Regions from separate parts of the Homo sapiens genome. Here all the other regions are linked to region 2. Evidence: fine-mapped expression QTL. A gene starts in region 2. Each other region holds a variant in brackets. All regions are shown on one strand. Distances are from middle to middle.

Region 1 (8,181 bases), 980 kb after region 2:
TGGTGGTGGTGCATGCCTGTAGTCCCAGCTACTCGGGAGGCTGAGGTAGGAGAATTGCTTGAACCTGGGAGGCAGAGGTTGCAGTGAGCTGAGATAGTGCCACTGCACTCCAGCCTGGGTGACAGAGTGAGACTCCATCTCAAAAAAAAAAAAAAGTTATTGTAAAAAACTCCTGCTCCTTAAGAGGGACGTAGGATGTTTGTCTGCTTCTTGGGTAATGGGAAATTAACTTGGATAGAGCTCATTCCTCATTCTCTATTTCTGCAGCTATAAAATTGGGCCAATAACCTTAGCCCTCCTTATTGTCTCAGGAAAGCCCTGGGTGAGGATGCCACTGAGCCCGCCTGGAGCCAGGAGCTGGTCTGCAGAAACTGCTGGGCCTGTTTCTACTCTGATGTTTACTTGGCCTGGAGGCCCAGTGTGATGAAACCCGGCCCTGTTGCCGAGCACCTTGGGAAGCCTCCCTCCAGGGTCCCTCTGTGCTCAGACAGTGGCCCTTTGTAGAGTGGAGGAGCAGACTGAAAGCGGAGCTGCTGGAAACCGTTTCCTCCCCTCTGCCTCGAGCAACCTCCTCCCGCAGCCACAGACCATCCTGTGCCTGGGTGGCCTCTGCTTTAAGTCTGCAGCTGGCGGGGTAAGATAGGGTCTCTAGGCAGCCTGCTAGGCTGGAAGGGTGAGGAGGGGTCCTGGCAGGATGGCCAGCTGAAACACAGCATCCCCTAACTCAATACAGATCACTTATAACAGGGCTTTCCAAAGAGGAGACTGGCCCCTTACAGGCAAGATTGACATTTCACCATCCCCTGCCACCACTCAATAAGCGCCTAAGATTTAGGCTAGAAGTGATGTGGTTTGTCCCTTCTGTCCCTACTTCACTGGCCCCTATACTCACTAGCGGGGGGGATTGGGAATCCTTAGACATAATCCCAAACCTGGTGGAGTAGGAGTTCAGTAAGTGGGGAAGAACTAGGAACAAGAGGAAAGAAGGTTTAAGAGTGTGGTATAGGCTGGGCACGGTGGCTCATGCTTGTAATCCCAGCACTTTGGGAGGCTGAGGCAAGCGGATCACTTGAGGTCAGGGGTTTGAGACCAGCCTGGCCAACATGGTGAAACCCCATCTCTACTAAAAATACAAAAATTAGCCAGGCATGGTGGCGGGCGCCTGTAATCCCAGCTCCTCAGGAGGCTGAGGCAGGAGAATCGCTTGAACCCGGAAGGCAGAGGTTGCAGTGAGCCAAGATGGCGCCATTTCACTCCAGCCTGGGCGACAAGAGTGAGACTCCGTCTCAAAAAAAGTGTTGTATAGGTGAAAGGACACTTAACTGGTCTGGGGGGCAGGAAGCCTGGGATTCCATTTCTGCTGAGCTACTGACTTGCTGGGTGACATTAGCTAGTTGTTTCCCTTTTCTATGCTTCAGTTTCCCAGCTGCGAAACTGTGGAGGTGGAGTAAATAAATGTTAAGGATTTTTGCAGTTCTAATTTTTCCCAATTCTTTGATCAGAAGGAGGAAAGGAAAGCTGGGGGTGGGTTGGAGGTAAATAACTGGCAGGATGCCTTCCATGGATTCACCTGCAGTCTCCAGGCAGCTTCTTCTCTGCCACTAAGATCTCTTCCCCTTCCGTTTCTCCCCCTCTTCTTTCCACCCCACTCTGAGGGCTTCTTGTGATGAGATCTAAAAGCTGTCTTACTTACAATTGCTTATACTGTCTTTTGCCCACAAAGGGAGGAGACTGTGCACAATCATGGAGGGCAGTGGCAAGTCTGGTGGAGAGGGAAGGAGGTCAGGAAATAAACGAGAGAGGAAAATTAAGAGGTAAGGATGTGATAGAGGGAAGTATTGAAAGAAAGCTCAGGGAGAGTGAAAAGGAAGGAAAAGGGGAGAGAGAGGAGGTAAAAGTGAAGGAAAGAGGTTGAGTGCAGTGGTTATTCCTGTAATCCCAGTACTTTGGGAGGCTGAGGCAGGTGGATGACTTGAGGCCAGGAGTTCAAGACCAGCCAGGGCAACATGACAAAACCCCATCTCTACAAAAATACAAAAATTAGCGGGACATGGTGGTGTATGCCTGTAGTCCCAGCTACTAGGGAGGCTGAGGTGGGAGGATCACTTGAGCCCAGGAGGTCGAGGCTGCAGTGAGCCATGATGGCACCATTGCACTCTAGCCTGGGTGACAAAGTGAGATCCTGTCTCAAAAAAAAAAAAAAAAAGAAAGAAAAAGAGTGGAATGAAATGGAGAATAAGGAAGGTACAAATGGGAGAGAAAAACAGGAAAAGAAACCATGGGAGAAAACCAGAGCCTGGGCAAACGAACATGCAAGTGGAGACATAGTGTTTTCTAGGACAACAAAACACTTTAGTTTGGCTAGAGCTAAGAGTGTGGTAGGTAGACAAAATTAGAATCAGATTGTAGAAGGTCTTGGATGCCAGGTTAATGATTTTGAACTTTATATTTTTTATTTTCCTTTGTTCAAATCCCCTGTGATAAGTTGTTTTATTTTGTTTAGAGTGGGTATCAGGCAGATTTCTGGGTGAGGCCCAGAGGAGCATTTTTATTCATCCATCCATTCAACAAGGGACTATGTCTTATCCAACTTGTATCCCTAGAGTATAACACAACATCTGCATATAAGACAGAAAGTAAGTGCTTGTTAAAATTAAGCATTTTGGCCGGGTGTGATGGCACACATGTGTAATCCCAGCACTTTGGGAGGCCGAGGTGGGTGGATCACCTGAGGTCAGGAGTTCAAGACCAGCCTGGCCAACATGGCGAAACCATGTCTCCACTAAAAATACAAAAATTAGCTGGGCATGGTGGCATGCTCTGGTAATCCTAGCTACTAGAGAGGCTGAGGCAGGAGACTTGCTAGAATCCAGGAGGCGGAGATGCAGTGAGCCAACATTGCGCCACTGTACTCCAGCCTGGACAAGAGAGTGAGACTAGGTCTCAAAGAAAAAAAAAAAATTGAGCATTTGGAGAAAGCAGTAGTTGAGACAGTCTCACAGAGAATATAAGAATAATCATATTAAAAGGTAAAAAGTGCTAGGTGCCCAGAGAGAGGCCCAGAAAAGGGAGATCAGAGGAGAATGAGACAGCCTTCCCTGCTACCTTTAGCAGAAAAGTCCCAAAGAATATTATAATGGGGCCATCTTGGCTACTTGAATTAATCCTTGTGGCCTGAAAGATACATTCTGTTGGAGGGTATAGGGTTCTGTCTATCTTCTGAGTGAAGGGCAAAGAGTTCTCCGAAGAAAAGGGAGGGATTATTACTGGAAGAAGGGAAATTAGAACTGGCATGTCTGCCAGGTCTGCTGTAGTGGAACAAGGTGAGGCACATATAGGGAACAGTGAGAAGGATTAGGAGCTCTTCAAGAGTGGTAACAGTTAAAAATAGAGCTACAGGCCAGGTGCAGTGGCTCACGCCTATAATCCCAGCACTTTGGGAGGCTGAGGTGGGAGAATTGCTTGAGCCCAGGAGTTTAAGACCAACCTGGGCAACACAGTGAAAACCCGTCTCTACACAAAATAAAAAATTAGCCAGGCGTGGCTGGGCGTGGTGACTCACTCCTGTAATCCCAGCACTTTGGGAGGCCAAGGTGGGTGGATCACCTGAAGTCGGGAGTTTGAGACCAGCCTGATTAACATGGTGAAACCCTGTCTCTACTGAAAACAAAAAATTAGCCAGACGTGGTGGCATATGCCTGTAATCCCAGCTACTTGGGAGGCTGAGGCAGGAGAATTGCTTGAACCTGGGAGGCAGAGGTTGCAGTGAGCGAGACTGCACCATTGCACTCTAGCCTGGGCAACAAGGGCGAAACTCTGTCTCC[A/AAAAT]AAATAAATAAATAAATAAAAAGAAAGAGAGAGAGAGAGGTGCACCATGGAGGGCCTCAAATACCAAGTTGTGGAGTTTGAACTTGTCTCTTGAACTGAGAGTGCGCTTGTTGAAGTTGTGCTTTGGGAGTACTAATCAGGCCACCAAGGTATGGAATGGACTGGAGGCGAGAAGACCAGGACTGATGGGAAATTGTTCTGGCATGTCCTCTGGTAAAGCCTAAGCATGAGATCCTTCACCCACATCAATGTGTTTTCCGTTGTAACTTGGTTTGGTTTTTTTGTTGTTGTTCTTCTTCCCATTCTAGGTCAGTGGATTCAAAACGATGAAAGTGGATTCAAAACCTCTGTCAAGGGGTGCTGTCCTTTCCTGGCCAAGTCTCTTTTATTCTCTTAGGGCTGCAACCTCTTCACCTGGGAAATGAATGGTCCTGTGATTTACAAGAGCAGGTAAGCACCTGCAAAGGGCTTTGAAGATTGATGGGCAGAGTTTCCAGCTCAATTTCTGGGGAGTGGCAGTATCAGCAGCACCCCGTCCCTGGCTCTGACATAACGATGGGAGAAGCAGCTCCAAGGCATCCTGCTTTTTTTTTTTTTTTGAGACAGAGTCTCGTTCTGTTGCCCAGGCTGGAGTGCAGTGGCACGATCTCAGCTCACTGCAACCTCCGCCTCCCGGGTTCAAGCAATTCTCCTGCCTCAGCCTCCTGAGTAGCTGGGATTACAGGTGTGTGCCACCATACCTGGCTAATTTTTGTATGTTTAGTAGAGATGGGGTTTCACTATGTTGGTCAGGCTGATCTCGAACTCCTGACCTCGTGATCCTCCCTCCTCAGCCTCCCAAAGTGATGGGATTACAGGTGTGAGCCCCTGCGCCCAGCTGGCATCCTGCTTTTGAGCAGGAGGTGGCCCAGGCCGTAGCCCAGAGTCAACTCTCTCCTCTTCCCAAATATCTCCACAAAGGAAAACTCTGTAGCATAGCCTAAGAGGGAGCATAAGACTTTGAAGTCAGACATCCCAGGCCTTGGTCCTCAGTTGTGCTTCTTCCTAGCTCTGGTATTTTGAATAAGTTATGTAAGTTACCTGAGCCTATTTCCTTGTATATAAAATGGGGGTTGCAATACTAATTTCCTGGGCTCGTGAGAGTAGAGTAAGCTAAAGCTAAAAAAGCACTTGGCACAGTGCCATACAAGCCACAGGCACTCGGCCAGTGTGAATTCCTATTCATTTTTTAAGAAACAGAGTCATGTACTGTTAGAGGTAGAGAGGTGTTAGATATTCCTGGTCCAATCCTCTCATTCTACAGTGGTAAAAGGACTCCCAGGAAGGTTTCCTCTTAACCAATCTAATTCTCTTCTGTCACAATATCTGCTGATTCTGTCCTCAACTAGAAGCAGAGAACTGAGCTCCACCTTCTATGCTTAGCTACATAAATCCGATGGGAGTTCTATACCTGTTCAAAAAAGGGTATTTTGGTTCCTCCATTTTTCCCCCCAAGAACATTTGCCTATCATTTGCTCTTTGCTCTGCTAAAGGTGAAGACAATTAGTGTCCCATACTCAAAGTGATCACGAATATGTGGGAAGATCATGAGCAACACAGTATAGATGAATCCTAAGTAAATCCAGCAATCTTGGAATATCTGAAGGAATTTGCTCCCAATTATTCTTAGATAAGCTAAGAAATGAATACAACTGTTAGTTATCGTGTTTGTGTTTTTGTTTTTACTCTGCTTAATTTTTTAACATTTTTATTTATTTCTATAATTATAGAAATGGGGGGGGGGGGTCTCACTATGCTGCCCAGGCAGGTCTCTAACTCCTGGGATCAAATGATCCTCTTGCCTTGACCTCCCAAAGTGCTGGGATTACAGGTGTGAGCCACTGTGCCCAGCTTCTGCTTAATTTTTATTTCCCAGTTGGCAGGGGCTCCCTAATTCTTTAGCTTTACTTTTTTATGGATAAAATATACATAGCATAAAATTTATCATTTTAACTATTTTTTGACAGATAAACAGTTTCTTTATTCCTCCTCATCCTCCTCCTCTTCTTCATCTTCCTCTTCCACCTTTTCCTGGGCAACTTTAGCAGGACCATTTGCACCATCAAACTTTCCTTTTGCCTTATAGTCAGAAACATCCTTCTCATACTTCTTCAGCTTTGCCGCCTTAGTGAAGTAAGGCTGCTTTTCACTGTCATTTAAGCTATTCCACATTTCACCCAACTTTTTTTTTTCTTTTGCCACGTCTCCAATAGAGATGCCAGGGTTTGTGGATTTGATCTCGGGGCAGAATTCTGAACAGAACAGGAAGAATCCAGACAGTAGCCTTTTGGGGCATTAGGATCCTTCTTGTTGCCTCCTTTAGCTGGTCCATAATCCTTCATTTCCCGATCATAGTGTACTTTATCCGCCTTTGCCATTTCATTGAATTTAGACTTCTCTTTCCCAGACATGGTCTTCTACCTCTCGGAGCACTTCCTGGAATATTCTGCAAAATTGACAAGGACCTCTGGGTTTTTCTTCTTATGTTCTTCTCTGCACATCTGCACAAAGAAGGCATAAGCAGACATCTTTCCCTTTGGTTTCTTGGTGTCACCTTTAGCCATCCTGACTGAATTTCTTCTTCCTTCCCGGCCGCCTAGCAGGAGGGAAGGCGGAGGGGAGTGAAGGGCGTGGGGAGGAGAGGGAGGGCCCTGGGAGGCGAAGCAGCAGGAGGCGGCGACGTGGCCCGAAAGTTCTGCAGGCGCTGCGGTGGCGGCCCCATTTTAACTTTTTTTTTATTTTTTATTTTTTGAGAGGGAGTCTCGCTCTGTTACCCAGGCTGGAGTGCAGTAGCGCGATCTCGGCTCACTGCAAGCTCTGCCTCCTGGGTTCACGCCATTCTTCTGCCTCAGCCTCCCGAGTAGCTGGGACTACAGGCACCCGCCACCACGCCCGGCTAATTTTTTGTATTTTTCGTAGAGACGGGGTTTCACTGTGCTAGCCAAGATGGTCTCAATCTCCTGACCTCGTGATCCGCCTGCCTCGGCCTCCCAAAGTGCTGGGATTACAGGTGTGAGCTACCACACCCGGCAAACTTAAAAAAAATTTTTTTTTTGAGACAGAGCCTCCCTCTGTCGCCAGGCTGGAGTGCAGTGGTGCGATCTCGGCTCACCACAACCTCCGCCTCCCGGTTTCAAGCGATTCTCCTGCCTCAGCCTCCCGAGTAGCTGGGATTACAGGCACGGGCCACCACGCCCAGCTAATTTTTGTATTTTTAGTACAGACGGGGTTTCGCCATGTTGGACAGGCTGGTCTCGAACTCCCGATCTCAGGTAATCTGCCAGCCTTGGCCTCCCAAAGTGCTGGGATTACAGACGTAAGCCACCACACCTCACCCATTTTAACTATTTTTAAGTATACAATTCAGTGACATTAAGTTCATTCACAAAGTAGTGTAATCATCACCACTTCCTATTTCCAGAACTTTTTCATCATCCCAAACAGACACTCTGTACCCATTAAACAACATTCCCCATTTTCCCCTTCCCTCAGCCTCTGGTAACCTCTATTTATTTTAATTTCTGTCTCTACGAATTTACCTATTCTAGATACTTCATATGAGTGGAATCATACAACGTTTGTATTTATTTTTGTTTGTTTGTTTGAGACAGAGTACAGTGTTGGGATCATAGCTCACTGCAGCCTCAACCTCCCAGGCACAAGTGATCCTCCCACCTCAGCCTCCTGGGTAGCTAGGACTACAGGCACACACCACCACACCTGGCTAATATTTAAAAATTTTTTGTAGAGACGGTGAAACAGGAACCCTCGAAGGGTGTGCAATGGGGGTGTGGCTTGCTTCTTCAGTGCCCTGCTGCTCAAACCTCTAGGGGAGCATACAGATGGGCAGGCTGTGGGGCTCCGACCCCACAGCAGTGTCTAGGGGTGAATGTTTACAGCTGAAGCCCCAATGGGCGTGTGTTATAGGGTGCTCTTTTAGGTTGCCATCTATAGGCGGCTTGTGTTAACCAGCTCAATTAAACCCCCTTCCTTACCACAAGGACAGAGGGATTTCTGTATCCTGGGGTTTCTTGCCTTGTTGTACCTGGAAGAACTGGATCACATGTGGGCTTGGAGAATGAGTGCAAGGTTTTATTGAGTAGAACTAGCTCTCAGCAGATGGGGGAGTTGGGGAGCCAGAAGGGAAATGGTTTTCCCCTGGAAATGTTCTCATCATGTTCACCAACATGGTGAAACCCTGTCTCTACTAAAAATATTTTTAAAATTAGCTGGGCATGGTGGTGTGCGCCTGTAATCCCAGCTACTCAGGAGGCTGAGGCAGGAGAATCACTTGAACCGGGGAGGCAGAGGTTGCAGT
Region 2 (8,181 bases):
TAAGATACAGGGTTTCACCATGTTGCCCAGGCTGGTCTCAAACTCCTGGGCTCAAACAATCCGCTCACCTCAGCTTCCCAAAGTGTTGGGATTACAGGTGTAAGCCACCACACTGGGCCTGACCTATACACTTATAAATGGTTAAGATGGTAAATTTTATGTTTACATATATATATTTATATATGTATATAGTTTGAGGCAGGGTCTCATTCTGTTGCCCAGGCTGCAGTGTAATGGTGTGATCATGGCTCACTGCAGCCTTGACTTGCCAGGCTCAAGCGATCTTCCCACCTCGGGTTCCTGAGCAGCTGGGACTACAGGCATGCATTTCCACACCTGGTTAATGTTTTTTTTTTTTTTTTTTGTAGTAGAGCTGGGGCTCCACCACACTGCCCAGGCTTGACTCAAACTGGCTCAGGTGATCATCCCATCTTGGTCTCCCAAAGTGCTGGGATTACACACATGAGCCAATGTACCTGGCCTATATTATATATTTGTTTACTACAATGAAAAAATTTTGGCTAGGCGCAGTGGCTCACACCTGTAATCCCAGCACTTTGGGAGGACAAGGCAGGGGGATCATGACGTCAGGAGTTGGAGACCAGCCTGACCGACATGGTGAAACCCCATCTCTACTAAAAATACAAAAAGTAGCCAGGTGTGGTGGCACACGACTGTAATCCCAGCTACTCAGGAGGCTGAGGCAGAATTGCTTGAATCCGGGAGACGGAGGATGCAGTGAACCGAGATTGCGCCACTGCACTCCAGTCTGGGCAACAGAGCGAGACTCCGTCTAAAAAATAAAAAATAAAAAATGTTTAAATCTGGTCTTTTCCTACTATACCACATGCCATAACAGTATAAAAATATGGGTAATCTGGGCAACAGAGCAAAACCCTGTCTCTACCAAAGATACAAAAATTAATGGGGTGTGGTGGCACACGCCTGTAGTCCCAGCTACTAGGGAGGCTAAGGTGGGAGGATCACTTGAGCCCAGGAAGTTGAGCTTGCCACTGCACTCCAGCCTGGGTGACAGAGCAAGATTCTGTCTCAAAAAAAAAAAAGGGTAAGCAAATAACTTATTCTGCAGGATGGGAGAGAGGAGCGGAAGGGCACAGCATGGAATAAATTAAAAAAAAAAAAAACTAAGAAAAGAAATATTTGAAAGATGAAGGTCCCCATTTTATCCTCACTATAGCTCCAGGCAGGGGGTCTCTACTTCAACTTCTGAAATAGCTCCCACACCTATATACAACCATCAGTTACCACAATAACCTGCCTTGCTTTTGTGGCTCCAGAATATTCCAGCAGCCTTGTATCTGGTGAGCTTTTTTTTTTTTTTTTTGAGATGAAGTCTCACTATGTCACCCAGGCTGGAGTGCAGTGGCGTGATCTCAGCTCACAACCTCCACCTCCCAGGTTCAAGCAATTCTCCTGCCTCAGCCTCCAGAGTAGCTGGGATTACAGGTGCTTACCACCACGCCCGGCTAATTTTTGTATTTTTAGTAGAGACGGGGCTTCGCCATGTTGGCCAGGCTGGTCTCAAACTCCTGACCTCAGATGATCCACCCGCCTCGACCTCCCAAAGCACTGGGATTACAGGAATGAGCCACTGTGCCCAGCCTCTGGTGGGCTTTTCTAGGCTCCTCCCATTCTAAGTCATTCAGCACTGGAAACAAATTAAGTTGCCTAAATTGCCTCATTTATCATGCTAAAGAACTTCTGTGGCTCCCTATTATTCTCAGAACACTGATTATCAGGATGGGTGTTTAGGAACATATCATCTAACCTCTCTGAGCCTCAGTTTCCTCATCCATATTAAGAAATGAGTCTTGAAGCATAACTCAAAAGCTTGAGGATTAAAGATAACATATGCCTTGTACCGTACTTTTTCTAAAGGTTATGTGCTCACTAAAAGTTAGTCCTCTTTCTGCCTGTCTCTACACACCCAGCTCGGTAAGGTATCTTAGCTTAAGAAGGAAAGAGCAAGTATTTCTAGGATTTTTTTTTTTTTTTGAGACAGGGTCTCACTCTGTCAATCTCCGCCTCCCAGGCTCAGGTAATCCTCCCACCTCAGCCTCCCCACAGGCACACACCACCACCATGCCCGGCTAAATTTTTGGAGACACAGGATTTTGCCGTGTTGCCTGGGCTGGTCTCGAATTCCTGGATTCAAGCGATCTGCCTGCCTCGGCCTCCCAAAGTGCTGGGATTACAGGGTCTTAAGTCAGGTCTTAAGAACACAAGGGGGAAAAAGGCTGCTCATCTATGGTTGTGTGATGGCCAGGAAAACATTTCTCACTCACAACTGCTCCTTTCGTCCACAGTCCTCCATACACACAGACCCCCTAGCCTTTATTTTATTCTATCCTTTTCGTCATTTGAGGAAGTGATATTCAAATTAAATTTAAATAAAGTTACACTGTGAAAAGTCTCACTCCCATTTTCTCCCCCTTTAGCCCAATTCCCACCTCACTCCCACCAACCACTTTATCAGTTTCTTGAGTATCCTTCAAACTTTTTATGAAAAAGCTGTCTTTAAATAAAGCTAATGTTTTACAGGTGTTAGCAAGGTTCGGGGTGGGGGAGGGTGGAAGAAGTAGTGGACTAGGTCCTATTCAACCTGGTTTACCCTAAAGCAGTGTCCTTCGCTCACTCAAAAATAACAATAATCATATGTTGGGCACCTGTTATAAGTCAGATGCTTAATATTAACTACCTTCAGCCCTTAGTATGCACCAGAAATGCACTAATGCTTTACACAATTGCCCCCTTTGATCTCCACAACAATCTTAAAAGGTAGGTTACTAATTCTCATCTTCATCTTACAAGTGAGGAAACTGAGGCACAGAAAGGTCACCTGCCCAAGCAAGAGAGAGGAGCAGGGCTTTGAACCCAGGCCTGACTCCAGAGTCCCTCTTAACCGTGACGCTCTACACTAGCAAACCAGATATAGTCTCTGCACCCGCTGGAACTCAGCCTAATGTGGGAGACGGGCGAGAAAAAGGCAGACAACAAAGAAATACGAAATTATAGACTAAGAAAGTAATGTAAACGAAACGAATTCGCGGCTGTGACAGAATAACAATGGGGACCTACTTTAGAAAGGGGAAGGAAAGAGTGTCAAGGAAAGGCCTGAGAAAATGACATTTATGAAATGCTCGGGAACCATTTGGGGGCTGCAATGATGACCCCCTCCCCCACGCCCAATACACGGGATAAACTCGAGGCCCACAGAGGCTAAAACAAACACGACAGGGTCCCCCAGACGTGTAGACGTGGCGCAAAGAAGGGAGGATCCAGAAACTGGGCCCAGGGTTCGTACACGCCATCAGTGTCCACAGCAGCCCAGCCCCGCTCGGCCCCTGACAAGGGACATCAAGCCAGCTGCTTCCCACGGCCCCGCTGCAGCTGAGAGCGTCCGGGCAGCTCACAGGGAGGCCTTCCGGCCAGCCAAAAGGGCTTTGGCCCGTCCAGCGGCGGCCTGGAAAGGCCTCTTCCCCGGCCCCCCGCCAGCTCCCGCCTGGTCCGCCCCGCCCCGCCCCTCCTGGTCCAGCCTCGTACCTGCACCGCCCGGACCAGGCCCCGGCCGGTCAGCTGGCCCTGCCGCAGCTGCAGCAGAATGTTACCAGGCCGCGGCCGGCCGCCCCATCCGCCCCAAGCCGCCACTGTGGCTGCCGACCGTCTCCCTCGGCCGGCTCCAGACCCAGCCGCTACCGGCGCCGCCGCCATGTCTCCTCGTCGGACAAACAGGAAGCAAGCGGCCTCGGGGCCGCGGAGATTTCTACGGGGCGGCGGAGGGGTCGCCGCAGCGCCCCCAGTGGGCCGTCGGCGGAGGCGCAAGCCGCGTGGCAGGGACCGTGTGCGGCGTGGAGGCTACTGGGAATTGTAGTCCTGCGCGGCAGCGGGGTAGGTGGGAAAAGAGATGTGGCCTTTCCTGCACTGCCGGTTTCTCTGGCCCCCGGGCCCAGCATTTCGGCGAAATCTCCCAAGGTCCACATTCTCCCATTTCTCTCGCCGATTTGGGCAGGATGCAGGCAGCTGGCCAAGAAATGATCCTGGGCTTCAGGTCAGGAGTCAGGCCCTCGAGTCCGCTTCCTGCCTGCTTCTCTCTACACGTGACTCACCGCGGACATCGACCAAGTCATCGCGCTCTGCCACTGCGCCTGTGTCCTCGTCAGGTCACTCCATCTATAGATTCTGGGAGCCTGATCAATCGTAGTTCCTGGGGCTTTCTCTGCGCCCGACACCAAACCATGTCTAGGGGAAAGGGAGGGTGTCTGGGATACAGTGGTGAGCAGAACGGCCTGGGATCCTTTATCACGAAATGCAGGTTACAGGGGAAGACAGCAGATCCATACACAAAGAAACGCAGTCTCAAACTGGATAAGTTGTGTAACTGGGTAGGTTGTTGTGAAATTAAATAATGGAAGGGAAAGGGATTAGTAAATTGTGACATCATATTCTCTGTCAGATGAAAACCCTGTCCTAATTTCTATCCACCAGATAGCATGTTGTCTCTAATACTCATTTTTTCAGCTAACTTCTGTGGCAGGATGGCACTGACTCCCCCCACCCAACACACACACACTTTTTCCCTTCCTAGCAGGGGGCCTGTAATAAAAATGAAAGAGGAGAGCTAAGTGTGATGTAACAGGGAATGGTGAAGATTGTGACTCATAACTAAGATGACTGTAACTTACTGCTCAAACCAGAACACTTTAAAGAATGAAAAGACACAATAAATAATTACACCGGGACGGTAGGCATAAAAGTGACTCTCCCAGGTGAACTGGCACTATGGTTACCATCCTCACACCCCATCTAAAAGGAGTAGACTCACCATCCATCTTCATAGAACTAGAAAAAAGAATCCTAAAAATCATATGGAACCAAAAAAGAGCCTGCATGTCCAAAGCAAGACTAAGCAAAAAGAATAAATCTGGAGGCATCACATTACCTGACTTCAATCTATACAATAAGGCCATAGTCACCCAAACAGCATGGTACTGGTATAAAAATAGGCACATAGACCAATGGAACAGAATAGAGAACACAGTATAAAACCAAATACTTATAGCCAACTGATCTTCGATAAAGCAAACAAAAACATAAAGTGGGGAAAGGACACCCTATTCAACAGCTGGTGATAACTGGCAAGCCACATGCAGAAGAATGAAACTGGATCCTCATCTCTCACATTATACAAAAATAAACTCAGCCGGGTGCAGTGGCTCACACCTGTAATCCCAGTGGCTCACACCTGTAATCCCAGCACTTTGGGAGGCCGAGGTAGTCAGATCATGAGGTCAGGAGTTCGAGACCAGCCTGGCCAACATGGTGAAACCCCATCTCTACTAAAAATGCAAAAATTAGCTGGGCGTGGTGGCATGCACCTGTAGTCCCAGCTACTTGGGAGGCTGAGGCAGGAGAATCACTTGAACCCTGGAGACAGAGGTCACAGTGAGCCGAGATCACGCCACTGCACTCCAGTTTGATGACAGGATGAGACTCCATCTCAGAAAAAAAAAAAAAAATAGCCAAAGAAGTTACAGTCAGGAGATATTTTGTTCCCTATAGAAACTGAATATAACATCTTAAAATTTGTCCCTGAGTGTTGTTTCTTAGAAACTCGAACCCCCACCAAATGGATCTGCTGATAGGCAAACTCAGATAAGGGAGAGCTGAGAACTAAACTTTGACTTCTATTTTTTGTTATAAATTTCTTCCTAGGGGGCCTGGAGGAGGACACGACCATAAGTCAGAGCTAACATTCTTTTCTGCAGATCCCAAATTTTTAGACAAAGCTTTACCTCCTTAACCAATTACAAGTCAGAAAATCTTTGAATCCACTTGTGGGCCCCTGGTTGGAGATGTCCTGTCTTTTTAGGTGGAACCAATATACAGCCCCTATGTATTGATTTATGACTTCGCCTGTGGCCTCTGCCCTCCTGCCATTAAAAACCTGTAAGCCGGCTGGGCGCGGTGGCTCACACCTATAATCCCAGCACTTTGGGTGGCCGAGGCAGGTGGATCACCTGAGGTCAGGAGTTCGAGACCAGCCTGACCAAAACGGCAAAACCCCGTCTCTACTAAAGATACAAAAATTAGCCAGGCATGGTGGCACGTGCCTGTAATCCCAGCTACTCGGGAAGCTGAGGCAGGAGAATCGCTTGAACCCAGGAGGCAGAGGTTGCAGTGAGCTGAGATTGCACCACTGCACTCCAGCCTGGGCGACAGAGCAAGACTCTGTCTCAAAAAAATAAAATAAAACCCCTGTAAGCCATAAGGGAGTTCAGGTCTTAAGCATAAGCTGTTTGATTCTCCTCGCTTGGCACCCTGCAGCAAGTGCAATAATAAATGCCTCACTTTCTCTTGCTGTAATCCCAATGTCAGTGGCTTTGCTGCACCAGGTAAGCAGCCCTCACTTTGGTTCAATAACAATACTTTTCATAACTTTTTGCACCAGCTATGTATCATTTCTAGATTCAAGAAAAAAAAGTCTTCTAATATGTGAAATTAACTTTAAAAAGACATAAAAAGAAAAGGCATTTCCAGGGATACAAACAGGGCATTGGTGAGCTGTCCGGGCAGCAGCCAGCCTTACCAGGGAATCCACAGCCCAGGGATTCCACCCAGAGCTCTTCCTGAGGCATATGGTGATGGATATTCTCACCCTTGTCGCGGTGAGGAGACAGGATCCTGACTAATTTCACAGTTCACATGGCCCTCCAGGTTTCCCTTGGCACTCATCATGCTAGGGACAAATCTTCCCACCTCAGCTTTGACCCAACTGCAAATGTCACTTTCCATTCCTCAGTTCCTATCTTTGTCAGTCTAGCCTGGCCCAGGCATTCACCAAAGCTGGGTATTCACTGGGTCAAAAATGACAACCTCAAATTCAGTCCTTACAGATACCATGTGACCATGAAGTAAGGGGACATGTTTCCAGAAACCTCTGTGGAAAGACACTCTTTTCCACTTCACCTCTGCTCTGCCAGCCTTTTCCGTAGAAACTAGCTGAGGCTAGGCGCGGTGGCTCAGGCCTGTAATCCCAGCACTTTTGGAGGCCGAGGCGGGCAGATCACGAGGTCAGGAGTTCGAGACCAGCCTGGTCAATATGGTGAAACCCCGTCTCTACCAAAAACACAAAAATTAGCTGGGCGGGGTGAAGCGCGCCTGTAGTCCCAGCTGCCCTGGAGGCTGAGGCAGGAGAATTGCTTGAACCCGGGAGGCGGAGTTTGCAGTGAGCCGAGATCGCGCCACTGCACTCCAGCCTGGGCCACAGAGCAAGACTCTGTCTCAAAAAAAAAAAAAAAAAGCTGAGTGTCTCTCACCACCAGAGGGCGAAGTACCTCTCCCACCAGAGGTCTGTTGATGTCAATTTTAATCAGCACTAGAAAAAAAATGAAGCTCCCAAACTGGCTAATTTTTTTTCCACCGTAATCCCAAATGGCTTAACCAAACATGATGATGCTATTCAGAGAACATTAACTCTTGTAAATAAATCGCCAAACTCATCTCAATTGGGCAGACAGATTTTCTGGGACTTTTTTTTTTTTTTTTTTTTTTGAAGTCTTGCTCTGTGGCCCAGCCTGGAGTACAGTGGTGTGATTATAGCTCACTGCAGCCGCCAAGCTCCTGGGCTCAAGCAATCCTCCCGCTTCAGCCTCCCAAAGTGCTGGGATTACAGGCATGAGTCATGGCACCCTGCCAAGAAGTCACTTTAATCAAAGCAACTGGCACTGTTATATCAGGCCATGGTAACAGCTGTCCCATGCAACTATGCATTGTCCTGTGGTGTCATTTTTTACAGTGATTTTTTTTTACATTACATTTCTAATGTACAACCTCTCCATGATTTGTCTTTTAAATGTTTGTTAAGTACTATCTTATGTGCCAGGCACTGTTATAGGTGCTGTGGATATTGTGCTAAATAAAATAAACAAAATTTCCTGCCCTCATGGGGCTTATACTTCTGGGTAAGATCTACCCTTTATTGAGCACTTACCATTGGCCAAGCACTTTCTTTGCACTATCTTATTATTCTCGCAGCATTTTTGGGGAAGTTTTTCAAATCTACAGAAAGTTAAAAGATACACCATTAACACTCATATACCCTTTGCTTAGACTTGTCAGCTACTAAAACTATATTTTATCTTTCTCTCTGTGTATATATAC
Region 3 (8,181 bases), 56 kb before region 2:
CTCTGCCTCCCAGGTTCTCGCCATTCTCCTGCCTCAGGCCTCCCCAGTAGCTGGGACTACAGGCGCCTGCCACCACGCCCAGCTAATTTTTTGTATTTTTAGTAGAGACGGGGTTTCACCGTCTTAGCCAGGATAGTCTCGATCTCCTGACCTCGTGATCCGCCCGCCTCAGCCTCCCAAAGTGCTGGGATTACAGGTGTGAGCCAACGCGCCCAGCCCTTTGATCATATTTTTAATGGCTGCTGTTAAATCTGGTATCTGGACCCTTTCACAGGAAATTTCTGTTGCCTGCTTTTTCTTGTGTATAGGTTACACTTCCTGTTTTTTGTGTGTATGTCTCAATTTTTGTTAAAAACTGGACATTTTAGGCTGGGTGTGGTAGCTCACGCCTGTAATCCTAGCACTTTGGGAGGCCAAGGTGGGTGGATTGCCTGAGCTCAGGAGTTCAATACCAGCAACTAGGTAAAATCCTTTCTCTACTAAAATACAAAAAATTAGCCGGGTGTGGTGGCATGCACCTGTAACCCCAGCTACTCGGGAGGCTGAGAGAGAACTGCTTGAACATGGGAGACAGAGGTTGCAGTGAGCCGAGATTGTGCCACTGCCCTCCAACCTGGGCGACAAGAGACTCCATCTCAAAAAAGGACATTTTAAGTAATATACTGTAGCAACTCTGGATACTGATTCCCCCTCCTTCAGGGTTTGTTGTTGTTATTTGCTTATTTATTAGTTTAGTGACTTGGTTAGACTATTTTCGTAAAGTCTCCTTCCCCAAAGACTGGTGAAGATTTTCATGTTGTGCCTCAGAGAGTGCAACCTTGGGCATGTACAGAGTCTCCCTGGGATGACATTGAGCCAGGCTGTCTTTGACTAGCTCTTTCCATGATCTCTCTGTTAAGCTTTCTACCTCTTCTGGTATCACATCCAGCTGTTAGGCTCTACTAACTGCTGACTGAATTCTCGACTGTTTTTGATAATGCCCTGGAGTATACACTGCTCCAAAGTCTAATTCAATTAAATTCAGGAAGGGGTAATTTTTGAAATTGAGCTTTGTTCTGACCTTGGGAGAGTTCTTCTCAGCTGTCTCCTTCCCTGGTTCTCTGGTGAACTAGCTGGCCTGTAGATCACCCTGTTCTTAATTAAGAAGAGGGTACCTGGCCAGGCACAGTGGCTCATGCCTATAAACCTGGCACTCTGGGAGGCCAAGGAGGGTGGATCACTTGAGGCCAGGAGTTTGAGACCAGCCTGACCAACATGGCAAAACCCGTCTCTATTCAAAAAAGAGAAAATATAAAAAATAAAAGAGTAAAGGCCGGGCGCGGTGGCTCACGCCTGTAATCCCAGCACTTTGGGAGGCCGAGGCGGGTGGATCATGAGGTCAGGAGATCGAGACCATCCTGGCTAACAAGGTGAAACCCCGTCTCTACTAAAAATACAAAAAATTAGCCGGGCGCGGTGGCGGGCGCCTGTAGTCCCAGCTACTCGGGAGGCTGAGGCAGGAGAATGGCGTGAACCCGGGAAGCGGAGCTTGCAGTGAGCCGAGATTGCGCCACTGCAGTCCGCAGTCCGACCTGGGCGACAGAGCGAGACTCCGTCTCAAAAAAAAAAAAAAAAAAAAAAAAAAAGAGTAAAAAAAAAGAAGAGGTACCTCTTTTTATTTGCTTACCATCAAAATCTCCTCAGGCATGAACTTCCCTGGACTCTGTTCTTATTAACTGCCTCTCTCTGTGGGCAAATTCTCAGAGCAGGGTCAGTAGCCTCTAGTCTTCCGGGCTTGCCTCTCCCAGTGTAAAACCTCTGTACATGAGCAAGCTAGGGCAAAGGTGATCAGAGCCATAGAATTCTTGGCCTCAAGTATGTGGGATAGAGCTTCCACACCGTGAGTACAGTATGGAGCTGGGTGGAGGAAGGAAGCCTCTGACCTCTTTGCCATACTCACCGAGAACTTAGTCTCTTCAATTTGGAGCTGGAGGGAAGAAGAAAAGCTGATGGCCCCCCACTCCCAATGAGAAACCTATTCCTTGTTTGGGAGCTGAGAATTCCTGGGTTTGTATATTCTGAACCTGCTGGCCAGAGTCAAATGCTTTAAGGCTGGGCACCTAACCAAAGATGGGCCAGAGTTCTTTACCAGGAAGCTGGAGCTGAGACTGGGAGTCTTCTTATTTAATAGGCAGTCTTCTGCCTAGTCCCATCAAGGGGACCAGGAAAAGGTAGGGTACAGTGAGAGAGAAGACTAAGAAACACTGTAGAAAGAAAAAGAGACGAGGAGAGAAGTTTCTAGGTTCCTAAGAATGCTCTGGTTACTGGTTCTTGTTAGTCCCTGAGACACAGCTGTCTCAGGTCTGCAACAAAGCCCTTCTCCCTGAAATCAGGTCCACTTTGGGGAGTTCAATGAAGTTTCTGTAACAAGCTGTCAAAAGAGTCTTAATAGTCATGGTCTAGAATTGCCTTGAGGACAATTCTACTCTGAGCAAATCTCAAATTAATCCTTCTTGGAAAGAAGAGCAAGAATGGTCCCAGGCGCCCAAGGAAAAGCTCCCGATCACTCAGGGGACCCATCCTTCCATACCTTGATTGTGCTCTGACTCCTCATTGGCCACTCGCATCAGGGCATCTAGCACCAAAGCATTGTCTAGCCATGTGTACCACTCTTCCAACTCCTGAAGGAAGCTGGCTGTGCCCGTTGACTCTGACACCTTTCGAGTCGCCAGTTTGCAAAGCCGCTCAACAAAGCCAGGAATGCTGAGAAGGGCCGCTGCCAGGGAAAGAACAAGCGAGGAAATTTTCAAAATAGAGACCAGCAAAACTACCCCTAAAGCCCTAACAAACAATCTGCATGATAGGAATAATTCTTACTCTGATAGTAGCTAAAGCTACTCTTTTAAAATGAATGTCAAACCAAGGTAAATAGTAATTATGTTACAGGCATAAGCTCAGTTTTTAGCAGGTACAGGGAAACAGGCTTTTTATCTACTGGGAATATAAATTAGAATAATCTTTATGCCTTAAATGTGTGTGTCTTTGAGCCAAGAGGTCAATTTCTGGGAATTTACCATAACGAAATAACCAGTCATATTACACGAGAATATCTGTATAAGGAGGTTCACTGATGTGGTTTCTGTAACAGCAAAAAGGTGAAGGTAACTAAATGTTCATCAACAGCTGATTAATTAAATACAATGACACATTTATACAATGGAATACTGCATAGACACTAAGAATGATGACACATACATCTTTATATAGTGACTCAAAACAGCTGTTTACTTGT[T/TAGAGAA]AGAGAGTAAATTATTAAACAATATGAATTTAATTTTCTTCAAAAATTTAAATATTTGCTTCTTCAAAATACACAAGGAATGAAAGCATATATACCAAGGAATTTACTGTGGCTGTTCCTAAGCAGGAGAGAATACAAACAATTCTCTTAAAATTACTCATCTATAGTTTCTAATTTTCCTGTAACATTTACTAGCAGGATGAAAGATAAACATTTTTTTAAGGTAAAGAAAAAAACTGAATAATCACCCAATTTTTCTTTCCACCAATCTCATTTTATTCACAATGAGTGAGGTGGAAATTCTGATCGGCATATTAGAACATCATAAACTTTGGAGGCAGGGAGATCCAGATTCAAATCCTGACTCCATCATTTAACCTTCTTTAAAATGAGACTAATGCCTGATCATGTTTGCCTGTATATGCATTAAGTCTCCCTGGAAGGACAGAAAAGAAGCCAAGAGCAGTGGCTGCCACAGTAAACAGCCATAAGATGGAAACAGCCAAAATGTCCGTCAAGTGGAAAAGGGGATTTAGGTCACTGAGAGTAACAGTGGAACTGAAACTTTTCAATAAATACCTTTTTGAATCCGCAGATTTTTTGGAACCATGTGAATGTTACACCTAATTAAAAATTAATAAATAACTAGATATTTCAGGATATCAAGGGATTACTATTAATTTTTGATACAGTGGCAGTTACGTTTCTTAAAAGTCGTTATCATGTAGAAACACTGAAATATATGCAGGTGAAATTATACGATGTCTGGGGTTTACTTCAAAATAACCCAAGGTGAAGTAGGGTATAGTGAATGGGAGTAGAGATAAAGTAAGACAAGCTGGCCAGGCACGGTGGCTCATGCCTGTAATCCTAGCACTTTGGGAGGCCAAGGTGGGTGGATCACTTGAAGCTAGGAGTTTAAGACCAGCCTGGTCAACATGGCGAACTCCATCTCTACCAATAATACAAAAATTAGCCAGGCGTGGTATCGTGCGCCTGTAGTCCCAGCTACTCAGGAGGCTGAGGCATGAGAATTGCTTGAACCTGGGATGCAGAGGTTGCAGTGAGCTGAGACTGCACCACTGTACTCCAGCCTGGGCAAGAGTGATACTCTGTCTCAACGCGTGCGCACACAAACACACACACACACACACACCCCTCCCATAATTAGTGAGTGGCTATAAGATGATGTTTGACCTTAGTTATAAAATAAAACTACATTGAGGTTCCTCAAAAAGTTGGCCAGGCACGGTGGCTCACGCCTGTAATCCCAGCACTTTGGGAGGCCGAGGCGGGTGGATCACAAGGTCAGGAGATCGAGACCATCCTGGCTAACACGGTGAAACCCCATCTCTACTAAGAAGTACAAAAAATTAGCTGGGCGCGGTGGCAGGCGCCTGTAGTCCCAGCTACTTGGGAGGCTAAGGCAGGAGAATGGCGTGAACCCAGGAGGCAGAGCTTGCAGTGAGCGGAGATCGCGCCACTGCACTCCGGCCTGGGCGAAAGAGCGAGACTCTGTCTCAAAAAAAAAAAAAAAAAAAAAAAGTCAAACATAAAATTACCATATGACCCAGCAATTTCACTCCTACATATATACCCAAAAGAATTGAAAACAGGTGCACACACAAATATGTGTACACACATGTTCATAGCAGCACTATTCCCAACAGCCAAAAGATGAAAATATCCCAAATGTCCATTAACTGAAGGGATAAACAAACTGTGGTATCTACATGATGAGTATTATTCAGCCATATAAAGGAATGAAGTACTGACATGCTACAACATTAATGAACCACAAAAACATTATGCCAAGTGAAAGAAACCAGATTCAGAAGGCCACATGCTATATGATTCCATTTACAGTTATGCACTGCATTAACGCTGTTGCGGTCAACAACGACCACACAGAAGACGGTGGTGCCATCAGATTATAATACTGTATTTTTACTATACCTTTTTTCTATGTTTAGATACACAAATACTTACCATTATGGTACAACTGCCTACTGTATTTAGTACAGAAACATGCTGTACAGGTTTGCAGCCTAAGTGTATCATGGGCTATACCAGCTAGGTTTGTGCAAGTACACTCTATGACATTCACACAATGACAAAATCACCTCACTGCATTTCTCAGAAGGATAGAGACTGCTAAGTGACAACATGACTGTATATGAAGTAATCTGAATAGGTAAATCCACAGAGAAAAAAGCAGAATGGTGGTTGCCAGCAGTTGGGGAGAAGGGGTAATGGGAAGAAGCTGCTTAATGTGTACGGCGTTTCCTTTTGGGGTGATGAAAACGTGCAACTAGATAGAGGTGGTAGCTGCACAACACTGTAAATGTACTAAATGCCGCTGAGTTGTTCACTTTAAGACGGCTAATTTTATGTTACGTGACTTCCATCTCCATAAAATAATTACACAGAAATAGATTTTTGTTTGAGACACCATTTTTTTTTTTAACATATCAGCTTGGCAAATATAAAAAAGTTTGATAATGCTCTGTACTGGGAAAGGCTACAGACAACACGGTGGGGAAGATGAACAAGTAATTTCTTTGGAGGGTTAATTTGTCAACACTTACCAATTTCCATTAATGGGGGACTAATTAAATTACAGTATGCCTGTATAATAGAATATTATATAATTACAAAAAGGAATCATATAATTCTATATATACTAGAGTGTAATTTTTGGCAAGATAAGTTTAATAAAAAGAGAGCAGCACTTATTTTATATTACCTATTTACATTACCATCTGTACAAACAGGAGTCAATCTCTCTCTGTCCCTCCCTCCTTCCCCCGTCCCATGATTGGGCATGTATAGAATATTTTTCGAAGGACGTTTAAGAAACTGGTAAAAAGTTACCACAGGGAGGGGAACAAACTCTCTGCTGTACTTTTTGTATCATTTAAAAAAAATTTTAGGTGTGTATTATTTTTTCTAAAAACAAATCAGTAGGCGGGGCATGGTGGCCCATGCCTGTAATCCCAGCACTTTGGGAGGCCGAGGTGGGTGGATCACCTGAGTTTGGGAGTTCAAGACCAGCCTGGCCAATATGGCAAAACCGATGTCTACTAAAAATACAAAAAAATTAGTCGGGCCTGGTGGCGCATGCCTGTAGTCCCAGCTACTTCGCAGACTGAGGCACGAGAATCGCTTGAACCAGAAAGTGGTGGTTGCAGTAAGCCAAGATTGTGCCACTACACTCCAGCCTGGGCAACATAGCCAGACTGTGTCTCAAAATAAAACAAAGCAAAAAAAACAAAAAAGAAATAAAAAGAATTTGTATTCTACATGAAAATCTTCACATAGCTGGATTTTTACTCTTATACTTCTGTTCTCAGCAAAAATAGCTCCTGCTGCTTGACCTGCTCCTCTCAGGACAGCATGTAGGAGCTAGTCTTCCCCATTCCTGCACACTCAACACACTCCTCCAGATGGGAAGTGCCCGGTACTCAGGGTTCTAAGTCTGACTTCCCACCTGAGATTCTTGAGCTGTTGTGAGTCACTCACCTCTTGAAAAGCTAATAAAAGCTAAGACCTTCTCCCCAGAAAAAAATTCACTGGACCAATCATACCTAGCAACTCATACACAATCTCATGGGCTGACATCCCAGCATATCCAGTCCTTGTAATTCTCACAGCTTTATCAGTAGCTACCACACCTGGCTGGTTAATGTTAAACTGACAACTAAATCACTCACAACCCCTGAGAATTTCTGCAGAAGCAGGCCTCTTCTCTCTTCTCACTGTTGAAACATCAGTATTCCCCCCATACTCCTGTAGTTTCCCCTCCTGCTTTCCAGCTTCATGTGCTGCATAATTCAGCCCCTCTCAGCTAAGTGTCACTTATAAATTGACAATTATCTAGCCTATAGCTTCATTTACATCTCTGCTAAGAATCTTGAAAGACGTTACTTTCCCCCAGAAGGAAACCAGCTGTTCTCTTCTAAATCGACAGAAGAACAACTGGTAGTTCTGAGAATCTCAAAAAGGACTCAAAAAATAATTATTTATTTTAAAATGAATCTCAAAAAATAATGACTTACGCTATCTTCCTGGGGCTCAGATAATTTACATTAGATAATTACATGTAAATTATCTGAGCCCCAGGAAGATAGTGTAAATCATTATTTTTGCTAGACAAGAAAATGACCTCACAGCCACAGTTTATTAAAAACGAAACGAAAACTTTTTGGCAACATCCTACATATTTCAGCTTTCCATACAGTTATGGACTGTGTCCCCACCCCCCGCGCCCCCACAAATTCATACGTTGAAGCTCTAGCCCTAAATATGACTGCGTTTTGAAACAGGCCCTTTAGGGAATGCGGTGGTGTGATGGTTAATTTTAGCTGTCAACTTGACTGGACTATGGGATGCCTACATGGCTGGCACAGCACTGTTTCTGGGTGTGTCTGTGAAGGTGATTCCAGAAGAGATTGGTGTATGAGTGTGTGAACTAAGGGAAAATCTGCCCTCAATGTGGGCAGGCACCATCCAATTGGTGGGGGAGCAGTGGGAGGCGATGGAGGAAAACAAAAAGGGATTCTCCCCCTTCTGGAGTGGGAAGTTTTTCTCCTACTGCTCTTGGATATCAGACTCCAGGATCTTTGGCTTTTGGTCTCTGAGACTTGCACCAGCAGTTTCTGGGGTCCTCCAGCCGGGGAGCTACACCATTAGCTTTCCTGGTTCTAAGTTTTCCGGACTTGGACTGAGCCATGCTAATGGCTTCTCAGGTTCTCCAGCTTGCAGACGGCTTATCTTTTATTTTATTTATTTATTTTTGGAGACGGAGTTTCACTCGTTGCCCAGGCTGGAGTGCAATGGCACAATCTCAGCTCACTGCAACCTCTGCCTCCTGGGTTCAAGCAATTCTCCTGCTTCAGCCTCCCAGGTTG

Which allele goes with the higher level. Alleles are on the strand shown, and positions count from the first base shown. SD is a standard deviation of normalised expression in the study named. Not every link is listed here.
For the expression in unexposed skin of the gene that starts at base 3,758 in region 2, allele TAGAGAA in region 3 goes with a lower level than allele T (small effect, 0.12 SD a copy in GTEx).

What was found. PIP is the estimated chance that this variant, and not a neighbour inherited with it, causes the effect. A credible set is the group of variants that fine-mapping cannot tell apart.
Region 1: its variant is the best candidate, but not a certain one, in a credible set for the expression of TRPC4AP in cerebellum (GTEx, PIP 0.55).
Region 3: its variant is the best candidate, but not a certain one, in a credible set for the expression of TRPC4AP in unexposed skin (GTEx, PIP 0.57).

What each region holds. Positions count from the first base shown.
Region 1 is chr20:36,070,175-36,078,355 of GRCh38, forward strand. It overlaps the pseudogene HMGB3P2. Among named protein-coding and RNA genes, the nearest start is that of NORAD, 23 kb to the left of the region's middle. The variant A/AAAAT (reference allele first, on the strand shown) is at 3,825.
Region 2 is chr20:35,089,050-35,097,230 of GRCh38, forward strand. TRPC4AP (transient receptor potential cation channel subfamily C member 4 associated protein) reads right to left here and starts at 3,758. Exons shown (of 19, transcript NM_015638.3): 1 at 3,565-3,758. The coding sequence starts at 3,732. RefSeq lists an enhancer at 1,444-2,003 and silencers at 3,530-3,659, 7,293-7,422.
Region 3 is chr20:35,032,554-35,040,734 of GRCh38, forward strand. It overlaps TRPC4AP (transient receptor potential cation channel subfamily C member 4 associated protein), which reads right to left. Exons shown (of 19, transcript NM_015638.3): 8 at 2,570-2,755. Among named protein-coding and RNA genes, the nearest start is that of MIR499B, 46 kb to the left of the region's middle. The variant T/TAGAGAA (reference allele first, on the strand shown) is at 3,272.